Linked DNA regions of Homo sapiens. The protein of the gene in region 3 purifies or fractionates together with the protein of the main gene of each other region. This does not show direct contact. Each region holds a gene or a part of one and is shown on either strand. Other genes may lie near its edges.

Region 1 (4,203 bases), on a different chromosome or scaffold from region 3:
AGCTGTTGAAGCTTTCTGTTGAATTTTTCAGTCTCTTGAATTTCTATCCCATTCTTATTGTTTCTATTTGTCAACTTTCTTTTTAGTGTACTGTTTTCAAATTTCATTAAATTTTTTATCTGTATATATTAATAGTTCACTGAACTTCTTTATGGGTATTATTCTGAATTCTTTGTCAGTTATTTCATAAATCTCCATTTCTTTGGGGTCTATTATTGGAGCTTTATTAGTTTCTTTTGTAGGTGTCATGATTCCCTGATTCTTCATAATCTGTATGTTCTTGTATTGTTGTCAGTGCATTTGAGGAGACAGCCCCCTCTTCTGGCCGTTACAGGTGTTCTTGGGAAGGGATAGACCTTCACTATTTAGTCTATCCTATGATTCCAGAAGGGTCAGCTGATCAGTTAAGTGATGCTGATGCTGCTGATCTAGAGATTACTTTGGGAACTAGAAACCAGTGGATCATAAGTTATTCTTAGCTTATAATCTTTCATTAGCTGTCTTCTGTCTACAAAAGTTCCAAGACATCTGTCTGCTTATTTGAAGTACTTATGAAAAGAGCACTTTATTGGGCTTCACACTCAAGATTGTTAATAGATCTGATATCTATTACGTATCTCATACATATTTCTGTTAATGAACACCCTAGTGTGACAACTGGTTTACTTGTCTGTCTTCTATTAGTTAATGAACTCGAACATCACTATCTCCGGCACCCAGCAGTGTTTGGCATATAATTGCCCAGTACATAGAAATGAGATGCCTGGCTAGCTTAATAGAAATAAAAAAATTAATTAAAAAAAAGAGAGAGAAACGGCACAACAGGTGGCAGTGGTGGTGACTGATAGGGACAGGAAGGAAAGGAGGATTAGGAATATAAACATGGAATCAGAGTAAACAGGATATTGAGGAAAACTTCTGTCATGCTCATTCCTGTGAACTACCCTCCTCTACTCCTTTATTTACCCACCTTAGACCACCCAGACTAGTCAAGTATCTTCTTTCCTTTTCCAGTATCCCAGTTCACCCAACTGAACTTTTGCTATACCATGCTTTCCACAAACAATTTTAACTTGCCAACAAAGAATTACAAAAAAGGTCATTCTTTAATGATTACACATTTTTCTACTATCAGTGAGCAAATATAGTGTCCCTTCTGTTACATGAACTATAATAGGATATCCGGGTAACTAGTAATTTTTCTCTCTTCCATGAACGTGGCCCCTACAAAAACAAAACAACAAAACAAACAAACAAAAAACAGCTGGAATGTGTAGAACACGTTGAACTAAACGGTCTTATGCCCCGTATGCTGCCATATCTGGAGGTGAGGGTAGGAGGAACTTTGCAATTCCATTAGCCAAAATTAATTTTTATTTATTTCTTATATCCACTTACTTATTTAGCCAAGCCAGCATCTGGTTCTGTGCTATTCCCTTAGGATAGGACCAAGACAGATCAAGCCAGAAGGGGCATCATATTAGTTCATAAGACTGGTCTGTTATCTCTAATCAGGGTTTTCTGGGTTACTTTCCCAAGCTGGAGCCAAGTTGGGGCAATTTTGATGAGATATCTCTGTGCCCATGCCACCCATTTTGCTCTCAACTGCTGAGTAATCTCATGAAAATGTTGCTGCCAAGAGAAGCATATTTTCAAGATCCTACAGAAAGAATAGAAAGATGGCAGATTCCCTACCCTTCCCACCCCTACCTCAAGAACCACTATATTTAGGCTGAACTACTTTAAAAAGCAACTAACCTAATATATTTTCTTGCTATTCTTCCAATATACCAACTTGTCCCCACCTCAGGGCACTGCCCTTTCTGCTACTGTAACATGGAATTCTCCCCAAAGCTATTTATATGATTCAGTCTTGCTTTTTCTTTGCTTAAAAATCATCTCCTCAAAGATGCCTTCTAGCAGTGCTATTCTTACCACTATTTCCTTGTCCTGATTTCCCTTTGCTACACTTATCACTACTACCAGGGAATGTTATATTACACATAAATTTATTTGCTGTATTTTCTGCACCACCTAACTCCCCCACCCCCACGCATATTGTAAGCTCTGTGCAAGTAGGACCTTTGCATTTCTCATTCACTGCTATATCCCCAGGGCCTAATATAGTGCCTACTGGTTAATATATATTTGTTGAATGGTTGAACAGACTCAGACTGAATGCCAAATAATGTTAACTTAAAAAAAAAGTATACACATCAAAATATTTAAAGAAACAATTATTGATTTAAACATAAAACTGATATTGGGTACCTTGGTTTTACAAACACTCCTCACAATACTTCCCCTTGGTGAAGCCTTTCAGGAACTCTTCTGCAAGAATTATTTTCAGAGCCAGCTTGTCAACGACATGATTGGTCTTTTTACTTCATAAGTCTTATTTTGTTTCACCAAAAGCTTCACAGTGTAACAAACCAAACTCAGCACAGAAAACATATGACAATATATTTTAGATTCTCTAAGACAAGGTCTCATAAGTTTAGATGACAAGTGACAACATCAATGGACTAAGTATATCACCTCCCATAACTTAAAAGGCTAATACTCATAAACATGAAAGTTCTGGAGTATGAAATTTAAAACACAAATTTTGGATATAAATTATCTGAGTACAAAGCTGTAGGTAATTCTTATCTTTCACTTCCCCTCATAACTCCAAACATAACGCCATTGTAGGTGGGTTGCTGCTAGACTACATCCAAGATTGTTCAGCTGAGGACTTGCCCACTCTCCCAGTTACTTGGAATTTTCAACCTTCCCATACTCTAGCCCACATGGCATTTGCACTCAGCTTCTCCTACTGATCCAGCCACACATCATCTTCTTCATGAATGTGGGCAGTCTAAAGACTTCCTGTCTGGCAAAGTATTATTTCAAACAACTAAGAGGAAAATCTTTGGAAGCAGAAGTGGAAACACAGGAAAAGTGGCAGCAAAACCCTCAGCCTCAGGATAGTAGCTTATTCAAAAGTATATTTAAATGTCACAGGGTAAAATAGACCAGCTGAGTCCGTATCTTAGAAAGGAAGCCTACTGCTTTCTCCTGGTAGGCAACAAAGAGAACCCCACCTAGGACTTTAACCCACTCTTTTCCCAATGTATTCCAATACTATTAGCCAGCTGAACTAAAAGAGAATGGGTGCTGGTAGGCAACTCCATTGATCTCCCTTTCTTTAGCAATAAGTACTGGCCAGCTGAGGGCTAAAGATAATGAGGATTGAAAGAAAAGCAGACATACCAAAGGTACTGTGTCAAGTAATACATGAGATGTGTTCATAAACGAATGAGTTATTCCAGAGCCATACAAACAAATCAATCTCTTTACTGGACAGGCATACCTCTCATATGTATATTATTCGAATATACTAACACATGAAAGATCACATCACCTTGTTTACGGATACATTTAATATCCCTTACTCTTCCCGACTTTCAAAACATAATAGTATACAAAATATAAAATATCTTAAATATTTATAAAAATCACAAGAAAAAAATAGAACGTATGAAAATATTTTTATCTGAGTTCTCCCTCATTGTTGAGAGGCAGCTTAGTTTGCCTTGAGTTCATAACTGTTGAGTGGGTAGGAGTATGCCCTGCCTAATACTATTCTGTCCCGGAGAAGTTTAAATAAAACATAGTAGTTGCAGAAGAGGATGAGAGCCATGGAAAGTGTGTGGTTCCACTTCTCCGACCGCAGCAAGGAATAGAGCTGATAGAAGACGACACTGCCCTCAATAAGGATGAGCAGATTTAACAGCCTTAATGGTCGATGAAATAAGAACTGTAAGGAAGTTAAAAAAGTAAAACATTATTTCATAGAAAAGTAATGGCTACAGTTATTCTTGCATTGATTTTTCTAAAATAATTTAACATTTACAGGTTCCCATATATAATAATAAATAGATCTGTTTATTTAATATCAATCAGGCTATTTCTTGCTATAAAGATTGAAACCTTTTCCTTTTTGCTCAAGAAATAATGAAATAATTTTTATTTCAATGCCCCTGAGACACGAAAAGAGATTATGCCCAAAAGAAAACTACTTATAAACATTTTTCTTAGATTATATTTTAGGTATATATTTTATTTAGGATAAACACAAAAGTATATTCATCTAAGACAGAGGTGGATAAAGGACCAAACAGGAAATATTTTAGGCTTTGTAAGTCAAGAGGCAAAAAT
Region 2 (7,036 bases), on a different chromosome or scaffold from region 3:
GCAGCAGGAGGTGGGGCTTAGATCCAGTTGACTGACTAGTATGGAGCTCCTCCTTGGTTAAGCCGGTTGCCAGAAGACAGAACTGGAGGGGAAAGTAGCTCTGCTCATGCCGTCTTTCCATTTCCGTAGAGGAGAGAGGCAGTCAGTCCTCCTCTCAGCCTCTTGGCTTCCTTCGTCCTAATGATCACCCTGAAAGGTGCACAGTGCACCTTTGCCGGCGTGATCTCATTTAATCCTTAGTACAGCTGAGTGGTAGCCATTACTGTTCCCATTTTACAGATGAGGAAACATCAGAAAAACAAGACAACGCACTGGGGGTTCCGTAGCCATAAGAGACAAGCCAAGTGAGAAACAGACCCAGCCCCTCTGGCCCTAGTGTGCATCGTCTCCTGGGTGCCTGGCCTTTCCTCAGCTGCTGTTCCAAGTTATTGTTAGAACAACCTCTTATTCCATGAACGTCAAACCACTTCCTTCCCCTGGTTGCCCGTTCAAACCTTTTTGGGCCATAGATAGTTTGGGCAGCAAATGGAACTCCCTGTGTTTACCCACCTATTCTTTGCCCCAGCCACTACCAGTCCAGATGGGAAGAAAGATGGTCCTGGGTGGGACACCAGGCGGAGAAAAGCTGGGTTAACTAAAGGGCAAATCAATAATTCATACACAAAACCAGAGTACAAAAACCACTGCCTCCATTTATTCCACCTCAAATTGCCCTCTGGGGAGTCTTGTGGTCCACCCTAAACCCACCAAGTGGGGAGGTGGTGGTGGGAGCGGGAACACATGTAACTCCTCTTACACCCCATATCCTATTGTGTAGTTTTAAAAAGTCAGTGTTTATGGGCTTTGCCAATTTTGAATACAGTTTGTCTAAGAACACGTGTTTCCTACAGCGCTGAGAGCTTAATAAAAGAATTGCAACGTGGGGGAAGGTGGCACAACAAATGTAATTGTTGACCTAACAACAGAGAAAGGAGCAGATCTTTCTAATGAGTTCATTAGGTGCTTCCTAAAAGATCCCGGACTGCACACCAGCACCCACTTATGTAGCACAAGGTGCAACTCCGAGGGGCGTCCTAGAAGAGCTGCTGCTCTTCGCCCACCAGGGAGTTCTAACTGTATTGTATGCAAGTTTAAGTATAATAATATTGGCCCAGTTTGAAAGAAGTTAAACTTTTTCTTGGGTTTCTAATAAGGTAAATGGTATTTCCACCTTCTCAGAGGAGAATTCAAAGGTTTTTTTGATTCTGTTTTCTCAGTCATCCATTTGAGGCCTGGTCCTTGGCATTCCTCAGTGTGGCAGGGAGCTAGCTCCCAAGCCACCTGGCATATGCTGGCCACGGTGAAGCCATCTCAACGTTGCTCACCCCCACTTGTGGGCCCCCTGAAGTTATGCTTTTGAAGAGTGTCCTAAGAACAGATTATCCTATTTTTAATTATGTATTGAGCCCATCGAAAACCTGGAGTTGTAAGGAGAATCATCTCTAAGAGGGAATACAAACATCTCCATCTTTTTTTCTCTCCCAATTCTGAATGGCGCCAGTGTGAGCTAGGGTAGTATTCACACCAAGGGGTGGCGTTTATCTCTGCATATGTAAAGCTGCAGTGCTCCACCTGAAGGGATAAATTCTTGGCCACTTCTGGTGGGTCACTACTTTATTCAAAGATGTTTGGGGTCTGCCCATTGCCTCCTGGGCAGGTGGCAGGCAACTTTGTGAGACCTGCAGTGCCTCTGATCCTTGGTCCCAGCCTGTGTTTCCAACCTTGCCTCGCACCACCCTAACATGAGCCCCAGGCTCAGCAAGGGTGTCTTCTCATGGTCTCCCAAACTGGCCATGGTACAAGCAATTCTGATCCTTTGAGACTTAAGTGCGCTGTGGATCACTGCACCCCTACAACCGCAAAAAACCCAAACACAGAGTTTGTCAAGAATTTGGTGGCTTCCCAGGCTCTTGGAGCCCTCCCTGGGTTCCCCTTAAAAGCCCTGTCTGCCTAAAACACTCTTGTCCTGTGCCTCTTCATGCCTCATCCTCCCAGTCATTTCTGGTCCCTGTGTCACTCATGCCCAGGTTGGCACTCCTCACTCTCTGCACTGTCGCTGCAGTGAAACTCAGCCCTTTCCTGCCACACCTCCCCATCAGCACAGCCAGGTGCCCAACTCCCACCTCGGGTCTCGTGCAGCGGCCCGTGCTCCGCAGATCTGGCTCTCACTTACACATTGCCCCGGGCAGGGTTGGTTTCTAATTCATGTGTATCTTGTCTCTGTAGTGTGCCTGCCAGCTTCTCCACAGCTGGCCTGGGTCGTCGTCTTTGTGGCCCCTCACCGTCCCCTAGTGGAGCACTCTTTCTATAGTAGGTGCTCAAGAAATACATTTTCAACTCAATTGAAGGGAATAGGCTCCCATAACAGAATGAACTCATTTCAGAAGTTCATTACCAAGTCTTGAAAACCTTTTTTTATAGATCCTCCTGGACCGAATCCAGCTCTACCTTAATTAGCAAAGCAATTTGCAACACCCTTTCCCAAAAGTGCTTATGCGTCCCTTTGTGTGACTAGAATAGGGGCCGCTGTACCAATTGCTGTCACCACCCAAAATTCAATTTGCAAAATCGAAATCAGTGCCTGCAGCACTGATGTAGATTTGTATGTATAAAAGTTTAATATGGTAAAGAGAAATTTACTGACGACTGAACAGGGGAAATGCAAAAGGAGCAAAAATAGAGCTATAAAGGACACTCGTCAGATGAACATCTATTTTATTCACATTTGGGGAGCAGTGCTGAATTTTTCATAATGTCCCCACTGCTGCCTTTTCAAACCCAGCACTGCTATTAGTCCTAAAACGTCTGTGATCTCATTAGGTGTGAATGCAAAATCAGGTAATTTAAAGCATGTATTAAGAATATTTCTAAAAATGCACCGTCCATTTCATCAGAAAAACTGCATTTCAGAGCTCAGGAATGTTAGTGCTGGAGTCTGTGAATAAAGTGTAAGCTATAGGAACGTGGTGAGGCTTCTGGAATTCGACAGATGTCTCCACTGACATCCTTTTAAGTAGTAAGCATGACTTTTTTAATTGCTGAGCTTGAGTTATCTGTGGCTAGGAACCCAGCATTGACCAAGGCTTCATCACTCCTCAAGCAGTAAGAACTTGGCTAGAAATGGGCATGTCTCAAACTCCTGTCACCTCCACTGAGCTGCTTTTACAGCCTCAGTTAGACACCTTCTGACCTCAGACGGGAAACTGGATGGCAAGTCTGTTTTAGGACTCAGGTGTTTGGTTTTCTTTCTCAGGTTACAGCTGAGTCCAGGAATTCTGGGAACTCTCTAGGAGACTGTCTCTTTCACACAGGAAGTTTCAGAAGTGAGAGTGGTCGGGTGCGGTGGCTCAAGCCTGTAATCCCAGCACTTTGGGAGGCCGAGGTGGGCGGATCACAAGGTCAGGAGATTGAGACCATCCTGGCTAACACGGTGAAACCCCATCTCTACTAAAAATACAAAAAATTAGCCAGGCGTGGTAGCGGGCGCCTATAGTTCCAGCTACTTGGGAGGCTGAGGCAGGAGAATGGCATGAACCCGGGAGGCGGAGCTTGCAGTGAGCCAAGATTGTGCCAGTGCACTCCAGCCTGGGCGACAGAGTGAGACTCCATCTAAAAAAAAAAAAAAAAAGAAGTGAGAGTACCTGAGGGTCACTTTGCTTTTTGCACTTAGACTTTGTACATTTTGCTCTTATAGGAGCAGCACTCTGCAAGGGTGACCCGCCCCCCATGCCCCTCCTGTCTGTCCTGCTGCTCATCAGGGATGGGACTACGTGGCAAGGAAGGACAGCACCTTATACCACACCTGCTTGAGGGTGTGATACAAGGTTGCTGAGCAACCTACTGGTGACTTCTCACTGCTAGAGAAGTTGGAGCAGGAAGGGAACTTGAGTTGAAAGGTATTTGAGGGTGGGGATCTGGTCAGAATGCAGGTTTATCAGGAAGCAGTGTTAGGAGCCCAGGAGAGAGGCAGAGGCTATGGGAGGAAGGCAGATCAGCTTGTGGACTCCTTTCCTAAGAGCTTGGTTGGGAAGGTGGTGGGGATGGTGGCAGGACGGGAAGGTCCAGATAAGCGGCCATCAGGTGAAGACCAGGTACAGCAAACAGCTGCTCTCTCGGCAGACCATGGAGAGCTCAGTGACTGCTGAGAGCCACCAGGGTCAGTCAGGAGTGAAGCCTCAGCAGTTTTTCATCCTTCCTCACTTCCGTTTCCAGCGCCACCCTCGGCAGTGCACACCAGCCATGCTGATCCACTGGTAACATGCTGACCCATTCCCTGGGCACGGGCTCCACCTGGTCCTGTGCCTGGAGCACCCCACTCCCTTGCCGGTACATGCGCCCATCCTCAGCCACTCATTGTCCAGCACTTCCTGCCTGGCCCCATAGGCCCATAGCACCTTGTACATGCCCCTTCATTCCACTCCCACCAGGGTGGTTCTGAACTGTTCTGTCCTTTCCCCTCTTATTTTATGAGACAGGGGCCTGTGTTTACTACAACTCTTTACTACTAATAACTGTGAGAAAAACTAATCGCTCACATTTATCGGCGTTCCAGGCCCGGAATTCAGAGCAGCCCAAGCGTCACCTCATTTATCCTCACACCACCGGGGACGTAGGGGCTATTATTATATTTTCTTTTAAAAGAAAGGTTAAGTTGGCCAGTATGCTTTAAAAATGTTCAGTGCATGAAAGACAAAGGCCGAGGAACGGTCCCGGATTAAAGGAGACTAAAAGATACATGACTGTTAAATGCAGCAGGACATCCTGTTTTTCCATAGATTATTATTGAGACAATTGACAGAATTGGAATATGGACTGTGCATTAGATAATAGTGTTGTATCGGTGTTAAGTGGCCTGAATTTGATCATTGAACTGTGGTTATATAAGAGAATGTTCTTGTTCTTAGGAAATGCACACTGAAATATTATGGGGTGAAGGGGCATTATGCTCCTACTTTCAAGTGGATCAGAAGAAGGATATGTATGTACAGATACAGAGAAAGATAAACTGTGGCAACTTTTTTTTTTTTTAAGTGTATTTCATGGGGAAGAGTGAGTGGTTTGCCTGACATCACATAGCTGATAAGGGATGGTGCCAGGAGTCAACCCAGGCAGTTTGACTCCCCTGCTCCCTACAGCCTTGGAGATACTCATTCACCCAAGCGTCCCCTGCTCATAGATGGGCCAATCATGCTATAGGGTCTCGATGAATGTCTGTTAAATTTATAAGTGAGCACACTTTGGGAGGCCGAGGTGGGCAAATCACAAGGTCAGGAGTTCGAGACCAGCCTGGCCAACATGGTGAAAGCCTGTCTCTGCTAAAAATACACAAAATTAGCTGGGCGTAGTGGTGGGTACCTGTAATCCCAGCTACTTGGGAGGCTGAAGCAGGAGAATCACTTGAACCCAGGAGGGGAGTTTGCAGTGAGCCGAGATCACGCCATTGCACTCCAGCGTTAGCTCTTGGCTGTGCGTGCCCTGCTGAAGAAATGTTCCAGATGTGTTCGCCCAGATGTGTGCAGAATTCCATTCTAATGGGACTTTCCCTGGACAAGCTGACCAGCAGCAGGGAGACCACAGCCTCATATTTTCCATTCATTCTGTCCACTCAGATAATGACTTTATTATTCAGCAAACGCTGGCCACCTCCTCAGGCCATAATCCTTCCTCTTCTGATGTATCTGGGTGTACATTCTCATGATGAGTAGCCTGAACGCAGGAATGGGTCAGGTAGAACTAAATGATGGATTGTCTTTTTTGTTTGCTGTAAAGTAGGGACCTCATTTGACATGCACAGAGAGGCAGCAGTGGAGCTGCCTATTAAACCACTTTACTACTGATTTATTTATGCTCTGCCTTCTCCAAGGAAGGATTTAAGTTAGGAAAAAATCCATCATTTGAATTCTGGGGGAAAAAATATAAAAGAGAAAGTTTTGTTCTGGGGAGCTTTTCAAAATTCTTGGCAGAAAAATATAAAGAACTATACATAAATAATAGGAAGGACAGAGTAAAGGGAAAGTTAGAAGAGGTGCAAGAGAAAAGACCACACCTCCTCTGTATGCTGCCTGTCTCCCTGAGAAGGTCCAGCAGGGGCACTGCTGTCTCTGGCACCAGAGAATTGACTTACATCACCCTTTCTATGGCAAGGCCTCAGTGTTCTGGGCCATCTCCTTTCTAGCAGGACCTAACTGTGGTCCTGGCTTGGTTCTCCTCAGTTTACACATTTTATCTTAAATGTTGCCTTCTTCATGTTTCTTTCCTTCTTGTAGAGTTTCAGCAGCTCCCCACTTATCATAGATTGAGAACTCAGATGATTTTTTTTTTTTTTGCCTTTGCTAAAAGAATCTGTTGGTCTGAGGCCGGGCATGGTGGCTCATGCCTGTAACCCCAACACTCTGGGAGGCTGAGGCAGGTGGATCGCTTGAGGTCAGGAGTTCGAAACCAGCCTGGCCAGCATGGTGAAACCCTGTCTCTACTAAAAAATACAAAAATTAGCTGGGTGTGGTGGCACATGCCTTTAATCCCAGTTACTCAGGAGGCTGAGGCTGGAGAATTGCTTGAACCCAGGAGGCGGAGGTTGCAGTGAGCCAAGATTGCGCCACTGCACTCCAGCCTGGGCAATAGAGTGAGAGACTGTCTCAAAAAAAACAAAAGAATCTACTGGTCTGGCCTGAAGCATCCCACAGGATTCCTGCCTCCTCTTCCTTGCTGACGGCATCTCCTCCCCCAGGAAGGCCTGCCCTTCTCCCTTCTGCTTGCTGACCTTCTGCTTGCTGACCTTCTGCTGTGCTTCCTTCAGAACCTAGCATTGTCTCACTTCCATCATGCACTGACCACTTGAGCATGCGGGGACTCCCCCACTGAGTCCCTGTAGCCCACTCTGCCCAGCACCCCCTTTGTTAGGCACGCCTTTCCAACCTTACATTTCTATTGTGGCATCTCCCACTGCAGCTGGTGTCGTGGCTCACAAGTCACAGATGCTCAACAAATGCTTGTTTGC
Region 3 (7,078 bases):
AAATAAAAAGACAAGGAAAATGGCTCTACCTCCAACCAAGTACCAACTACTCCAATCAAAGTAACACTTACTTTATACAAGGTTTATTTTCTCGTAGAAAGGTCCTAGGACTGGCACACTCAATTCCATCTAAGGCATGGCACTGGACTGAAGTGTGTTCCACGTCGCTGTAGGCCTGACCGCCGAACTGTGGAATAACAACCAAGACCAAAACCAACTCACCAGAGCAAGTGACACAAACATCTATCTTTATATTCACTAATAACAGAATGAAAGCGGCCTCAGGACTACAATTATTCCAACAAGGTTGAGGTACAGCTGTGCTCAAGGGCAAGGAATTTAGTGACACACTTCTGAGTCCATCTTAAAGGTACACTGTCTTAAATAAACTCCTGCTTTCTTCTTCATGACTGGCTTCTTCAATAATATAGTAAAAAAAACCCCCAAACACACTCAGTGTCATTAAAGGCCATTTAGAAGAGATGAACACAATGCTTTACTTATCTTTACTTATAAGCATATGTATATGCTTATACATATTTATATGTATAAGCTTATACATATTTACAGGAAAAAGAGCATATAACTGAGCATTTGGGAGTGGGTATTTAAAAAGTCACTGCCTATTAGAGGTCTCTTTTATATCTATTAAAAATGAATAGAATTAGGAAAGAACTCAGGATATTATCTGACTCAGGACTTTATTTAGGTCATAAATGTGTATTACCTGATATCTGTGGGACACCTGTTAAGTTTAAATTCCAGCCAAAAATTTCAGAACTGGGCCTCTTACCATTGCTTAACTGAATTCTAGCCAAGAAATCACAGATATTCATTTTTTACTGGTACCTTATATCAGTGCTTATTACTATTTTCATTGGCGAGTTCCTCAAAGGGAAGGGACTGGGAAATAAGAATGCTTACAGGATAAACTCAATTTTTAATTAAAATGGGCAAAAGTGATCTCTATACAATATTAACTCAAACTTTAATCAATAATTATCAACAGAGTAAAATTTCATTGTCTTAAATATTTATCTATACATGATTTCAGTAAGAGTTGCCCTTTTAGTCTTATTACTGTCAGGTTTATTCCTCTGTGTCTGATTTAGTACAAAACATGCCTTCCCATCATTCTCTTAACATCTGACCAAATCTTGACTTGCATTATGTGGCATAATAGGATGGCGAGTCCATGGTGGGGAGGAGATACATGAACTTCATTGGTTATTTTGAGAGATTGATTAGGAACTGTACACTCAGCTTTAGGGATATTACTAATAAACCTTAATAGCGTTTTTCCATTCCAAGAAGCCACTGTTAACCAATGGCTTCCGCTGGAACGCTTTAATGTCCTACAAAGACATATACCGGTAGACTCTATCTGTCTCCTACGGACATGGTGGAACCTGTTTGCCTGGAGAAAAGAAATGTCATTGGCAAGAAAAGCTCTGCCCCAAATGCATGTGTAACAAAGATACTGCCCAATCCATCACCAGTGTTGCAAAGTGCACAGACTTCCTTTTGCTCTTTCAGGAAAGGTTCATGCCTTGAAGGAGAGTCAGGGGTGACATTTTAGTTTCAAAATCTGTCAGTGGCCAAAGGAACCAAAGACAGGTTGGTCTTTGCACCTGGGTGGTTTTAGCACAGAGATTGCTCCTTCATAAGGAAACCAAATATCTTGTTCAGTCACTGACCCTGGCCATACTGGAAATTTCCAGTAACGGTCTTTCTGAGGAAATTCTTCAAAAAACTTTGTACCTCTTATACTTTTATGTAATAGCATTCAGACATTCCTATTTCGTTATCGAAGGGTTTGCTCTTACGACAAAACAAAAACTCACCTTGAGACAACCATAACCAAGTTCCTGGGATGCAGTTGCATTTCCAACATGATCCACTGGGTCTTCACATTCTATAAATTCATCAGGTCTGTAATTCACCAGTAAGATCATGATCATCATCATACGGTCTTTGCAAATCGCTGTTTGCATGCACGTAATCAAAACGGGCAAAAGACATTTCTTCATCAAGTTTTCTGGGGTTCGGTTTCACCCTGCTGACCCCTTTCCAAGCCAATTAAACTGAAGCACAGCAGGTCAAACGGACAGCCACCAAAATGAACCTTTTGTTGGAGAAGGGAGGTGTTTCTGGTCCTGTTTCTATAAGGATTCTACTTCTGCCATGGTTTCATCTCTTCAGTAGGCAAACAACAAGATTCTGGGGGCAAAATTTAAGCCAAAGTATTCTCAGTCCTCTTTGCATTTCCCAAATGCCTTTTCTTGTTTGATCAAAAAGAGATGTTAAAAAATGGCGTGATTCTGCAACGGTAAGAATATTGATTGCTTTTTTAAAAGATGCCTTGTAGGCAGAGACAAGTCATTTACTCCATTTATGCCTTACTCAGTACTGGCACCGAATCGACCGACTAATACTCTCCTTGGGCTAAAGGGCGCAGGGCAAAGAAAGCACAACCTTACGCCCTTCTTCCAGAGGCTATATGATGTTACTCCTACCCAGTTTTCCTCTTTGGGGATCTCAAAGCCTCTGTCACTGACACACAAGAGTTTTCTCTGCACGGGCTGTGAGAAACCTGGTTCATGATATTTGCCTCCGGAACGACCTCAGAGAGGCAGGGTCTGAAAAAATGCAGCGTCCCCCCAACCCTGCCTTCCCTTAACACCCATATATTCCTGGCACACCCTCCACGTCCACCCGCCTCGACCACTGGTAGCTTACAGGTAAGAGCAGAGGATGACCGGAGAGTGGGGGTCGCCATATTCCCAGCTCGCAGCACCCCCGGGGCCCTCCGGCTGGGCGGCGCCAGCGGATGTGAGCTCAGGCTCAGCGGTCGCATTTTGCGAGTGGCTCCGAGACACACAATGCAGCAGAAGTAAATTCCCCAGCAGCAAAGCCGCCTGGCCGCACAGAAGTAAGTAACTAACCGGGCAACCACCTAGCACCATCTTCCCGGGCACAGGAGCGGAGACCCGGCCTCAACCACAACCCCAGGCCAGCAGCACAGACCCAAGAACTGCGTGGTCAGGCCTTTCCGCGTAGCCCCGCCCGCGTAGCCCCGCCAAACAGCCAATGGACGCGCAGCTCGACGCTCCGCGCACCTCCGCCAACCAACTAGAAAAGGTCGAGCAGACGGGCGGGGCTACTCCGCCCTCTGCTTCTGCTTCTCGATTCCTCTTCTGGGTCTCATGCTCCTCCTTCTTTTGCGCCGAATGCGTTCTCCAATCGGATCCGTCGACCCCCCTAGGTGGGCGTGCCCGGCAGCCGACGGGGCGGGGCGGATATGACTGGCGGGCCGACTAGTGCTGGTTGCCACCGCCGGTTTAGAAATCCTATTCTCGCGCCGGGGACTGGATTTTTCCCTACGTCAGCGCAGCTAGGCGATGTCGGGAGCGAGCTCGGACCGAGGGCTCAGTTGCGTCAGTGCCGCGCGCGTGCTCGTCGGGCGCGCGTGCTCGTCGGGCGCGCGCGCTTCCCGGCCAGACTTGGGGCCCCGGCAGGGTTGGAAAATGATGGAAGAGGCGGAGGTGGAGGCGACCGAGTGCTGAGAGGAACCTGCGGAATCGGCCGAGATGGGGTCTGGCGCGCGCTTTCCCTCGGGGACCCTTCGTGTCCGGTGGTTGCTGTTGCTTGGCCTGGTGGGCCCAGTCCTCGGTGCGGCGCGGCCAGGTGGGTGTCCGCGCCCCGGGTCGGTTGGGACGGCTGCTTCCTAGGGACGGGGCGCTCGGAGTGAACCTGTGGTGCCTGGGAGTGGAGGGGCCCGGCCTGGGGATCGGACCCGGGGTCGGGGGGCGCGGCCGCTCCAGGTGTGTGCGGACCGGGGTCGCACCCGAGGCGCGGGGTTTGGCGCCCCAAGCCCTTCTTGGCCCGGGTCCTCTGCCCGGCACCGCTTCCTCCGTGTCCTGTTCGATGGAGCCGTTCCCAGCGTCCCCCCATCCCTCGCCGCCTCGCGCGACCCCGGGTCCCCCAGACGCCCCGAAACCCGCTCTGGGGCGGGCGCTGACCTCGGCGGGCCGGAGCCCTGCAGGCTGGGCGCGCCCGCGGGCGTTCAGTCCTCCAAACGCCTGCAGGGAGGGAGCTGGCTCTCGCTCGTGGAGTTAATGTCGCTTGGAAAGAGACTGAGAGATGAAACTTTTGCTGCAGGTTATAATTTGAAATTTTGACGTTCATGGTATCCTTGGGTCAACACAGCTAAATTTAATGGTGGAATAAAGGTGGGTGGGAGGACGCTCATTTCTCTTGGGTCATTTTTGTAGTAAGAATATTTTGTAAACGATGTGCTACCTTTCTATAGCCAAACCATTCTTAAAAAATCTGTGTTTTTATTGGGTTCGTACTGTGTTAAATCCGGACAGATAATCCCTGCTCTTTTGAACTCACAGGATTATTGTAGGAATTAAATCATTTGTGTGAAATCGTTTTTGAATTGTGAAACTGCCCTTGACTATGTAAGATACTTGTATTGGAGATGCCCAAACATAGTGGAAGCAGATTGTCAGCACGCTGGCGTCTTTCTGGAAACAAGTTGTTTATTTTGGATTTTGTATGATATAATTGTTTGCATGGCTGTATTTTCTCTATCAGCGACAGAGGATGATGGAGAATGGGAGTTTTTACTAAATCATTGATTGAAAGTTATTCAAAGGTGATGATAGAAGATTTCAACGCAGGACTGTTGACCTTCAGGAAACTAATTACTTGTTTTTCTTATCTTTGGCTGCTTTATTTGAAATTAAGTAAATTTGCCCCAGTGTGGAAATGTTGAAACTCTGACAATGTTTTGAATGGGAAGTTGCCAAATTTCTTCTGGTTAAAACTACTTTTCCGGTGGTATTCTAGATGGTTAACACTCACCGATGTTTAAGGTGAAGACGATTATACATCCGGAGTTTTATTAATCTGTGATTTTTTTTTGTGTTTGTAAATGTAAATAAGACTGTATTTTTAAATGTTAATATAAATTGTCAGTCATTACCGACCTGCATTAGGTGAGTGGAATATCCTGATGGTCTTTAACTGTGGTTTTGGCCAGCTCCTCACTTCGGCATGTGTATGCCCCTTCAAAGTTTAGCCACCGTTTATGGAACTCCTATAAACACCACACAGTTGATTGTAGAGGGGCAGAAGGTGACCAAATATGCTAAGCGCATCTGAGAGATGTTGGGGAAGATTTTTAGAGAAAATAATATTTGAACTGGGCTACATCGGTGATTTTTCAAGTAGAATAGTAGATACATTCTAAGCAGAGGAAAGTTTTTGCAAGAGTATGGTGGGGCGGGGGGCGTATGAAAGAACATGACTTTTTAGGAAATGATAAAAATGTCAATATGTCTTCATGCAGACTATAAAAGGGAGGGATGGAAGATCAAACTAAGGTAGGTTGTTACCAGTTGGGAAGAGTCTTCTATGCTGAACTAAGGGGTTTGGACTTCACCCCGTAGGAAGTTCTTTGGGCAGTGGAGGTTTTAAGTAGGGGTGCGACCTAATCTCATTTTCTGTTAAGAAAACGGGCAACACGGTGGAGGATAGAATCTAGGAGGGAGAGACTAGAGGCTGGGACACCGGTTAAGAGGCTTTTGTAATAGTGTGCAGTGAGTCAACTCTTGTTTCTCTCGGGGAACGTTCATACAAAATCAGCTGACCACATTTTTGCAGTATAAGGTGTTTAAAACGTGCACTGAAACATTTTCCAGGATCGAAAGAGGAATTTGAGGTACCAGGCACACGTCAGTTACATTAGGAGTTAATTAGGTTTTATAGGATTTTTACTACCTTTTATAACATTGTCTCAATGAGGAAATGCAGTATAATTTCCAAACAGCTAACTTTCAGTAAACTTTTTTTTTTTTTTTAAACTGACAAAGGTAACTGTGTCATTGTAAAAAATAAGCGGAATCAGGTATGAAACCTCTTCTGATTTTCTAAGGTAGTAATTATGAGGAACAGATTTAGAATTTTTTTTTAAACAAAGACTGGCATTCTAAAGAAAATGACTTTGAAAGCTTACTCATGGTGAGTCACTGTAAAATCATTTGTGTAGTAAGAACTTAGGTCCATACTAATCTCGTTTTCAGATGCCAGCAAAATATTTGAATTTGATATGTTTGTGTTTGTGCCGATAGGAGAATGTAGCCTTTTACATTTAAGAATGATTTGGTTTTCAACCTTTTAAGTAAAAAAGAAAGCATATATAATTAAAATATGTACAAACCTAGTTCCTGGTTTCCAAGACAGTTTTCAAAAAGCACTTGAAGCTTTAACTTACCAAATTTATATTTGCTCTTTGTAAAAAATCTGGGTTTATAATAGAATTTATTATGGAATCCCCCAAAAGATGCAAGCTCTAAGTAACTGGAAGCTTTTTCTTGGGAATATCCGCAAGCTCAAACATATGACATAGCCTCATATTTCTTTTTCCTTTTTGGTATGTAACATATACTGGAGGCTTGGAGTCATGCCATCCTTTTGAGTCAGCGCTATGGAACTGCCTCATAAATGAATGCAGTCCTTTTGTATCTCAGTAGCTAATCCCTCACAGTCTTTTTTTTTTTGAGATGGAGTCTTGCTGTGTCGCCCAGGCTGGAGTGCAGTGGCACGATCTCGGCCCACTGCAACCTTCACCTCCCGAGTTCAAGCAATTCTCCTGCCTCAGCCTTATGCCTGGCTAGTTTTTTGTATTTTTAGTAGAGATGGAGTTTCACGGTATTAGCCAGGATGGTCTCGACCTCCTGACCTCGTGATCCGCCCACCTCAGCCTCCCAAAGCGCTGAGACTACAGGCATGAGCCACCGCGCCCCAGCCTCTCTCACAGTCTTTGAATGGGTCTAATGTGGACCCAACTAAAGTTGGGTAGCACAATGTTGTTTGTATATTGAGAGATTATTGTAGTTTATTTTCCATTTCATGTTGTTATTTTAATCAGATTATTTTCCCTAAGTGATCATATGTGGGACACTGCTTGAGTCACATCTTTTTTTTTTCTTTCTGAGAGACAGGGTCTTGCTCTGTTGCCCAGGCTGGAGTGCAGTGGAACAGTCATAGATCACTGTAACCTCGAATT

Evidence for each region. The genes of interacting proteins can lie anywhere in the genome.
Region 1: the proteins of TM2D2 (region 3) and TMEM39A purify together in Homo sapiens (affinity purification with mass spectrometry; 2 studies listed by BioGRID and IntAct, with this or other methods). This does not show direct contact.
Region 2: the proteins of TM2D2 (region 3) and UQCC2 purify together in Homo sapiens (affinity purification with mass spectrometry; 2 studies listed by BioGRID and IntAct, with this or other methods). This does not show direct contact.

Annotation. Positions count from the first base shown.
Region 1 is NC_000003.12:119,428,413-119,432,615, forward strand, and holds the end of TMEM39A (transmembrane protein 39A), read right to left. Parts: intron 3,803-4,203; coding exon 3,569-3,802; 3' UTR 537-3,568; downstream 1-536. UniProt on the Homo sapiens protein: Regulates autophagy by controlling the spatial distribution and levels of the intracellular phosphatidylinositol 4-phosphate (PtdIns(4)P) pools.
Region 2 is NC_000006.12:33,701,665-33,708,700, reverse strand, and holds part of UQCC2 (ubiquinol-cytochrome c reductase complex assembly factor 2), read left to right. Parts: intron 1-7,036.
Region 3 is NC_000008.11:38,993,474-39,000,551, forward strand, and holds the start of TM2D2 (TM2 domain-containing protein 2 isoform a precursor), read right to left. Parts: upstream 3,037-7,078; 5' UTR 2,967-3,036; coding exon 2,740-2,966; intron 2,322-2,739; exon of another isoform or gene 2,031-2,321; coding exon of another isoform or gene 1,933-2,030; coding exon 1,845-1,932; intron 188-1,844; coding exon 72-187; intron 1-71. Other genes in the region: ADAM9 (disintegrin and metalloproteinase domain-containing protein 9 precursor), read left to right, coding at 3,591-3,687.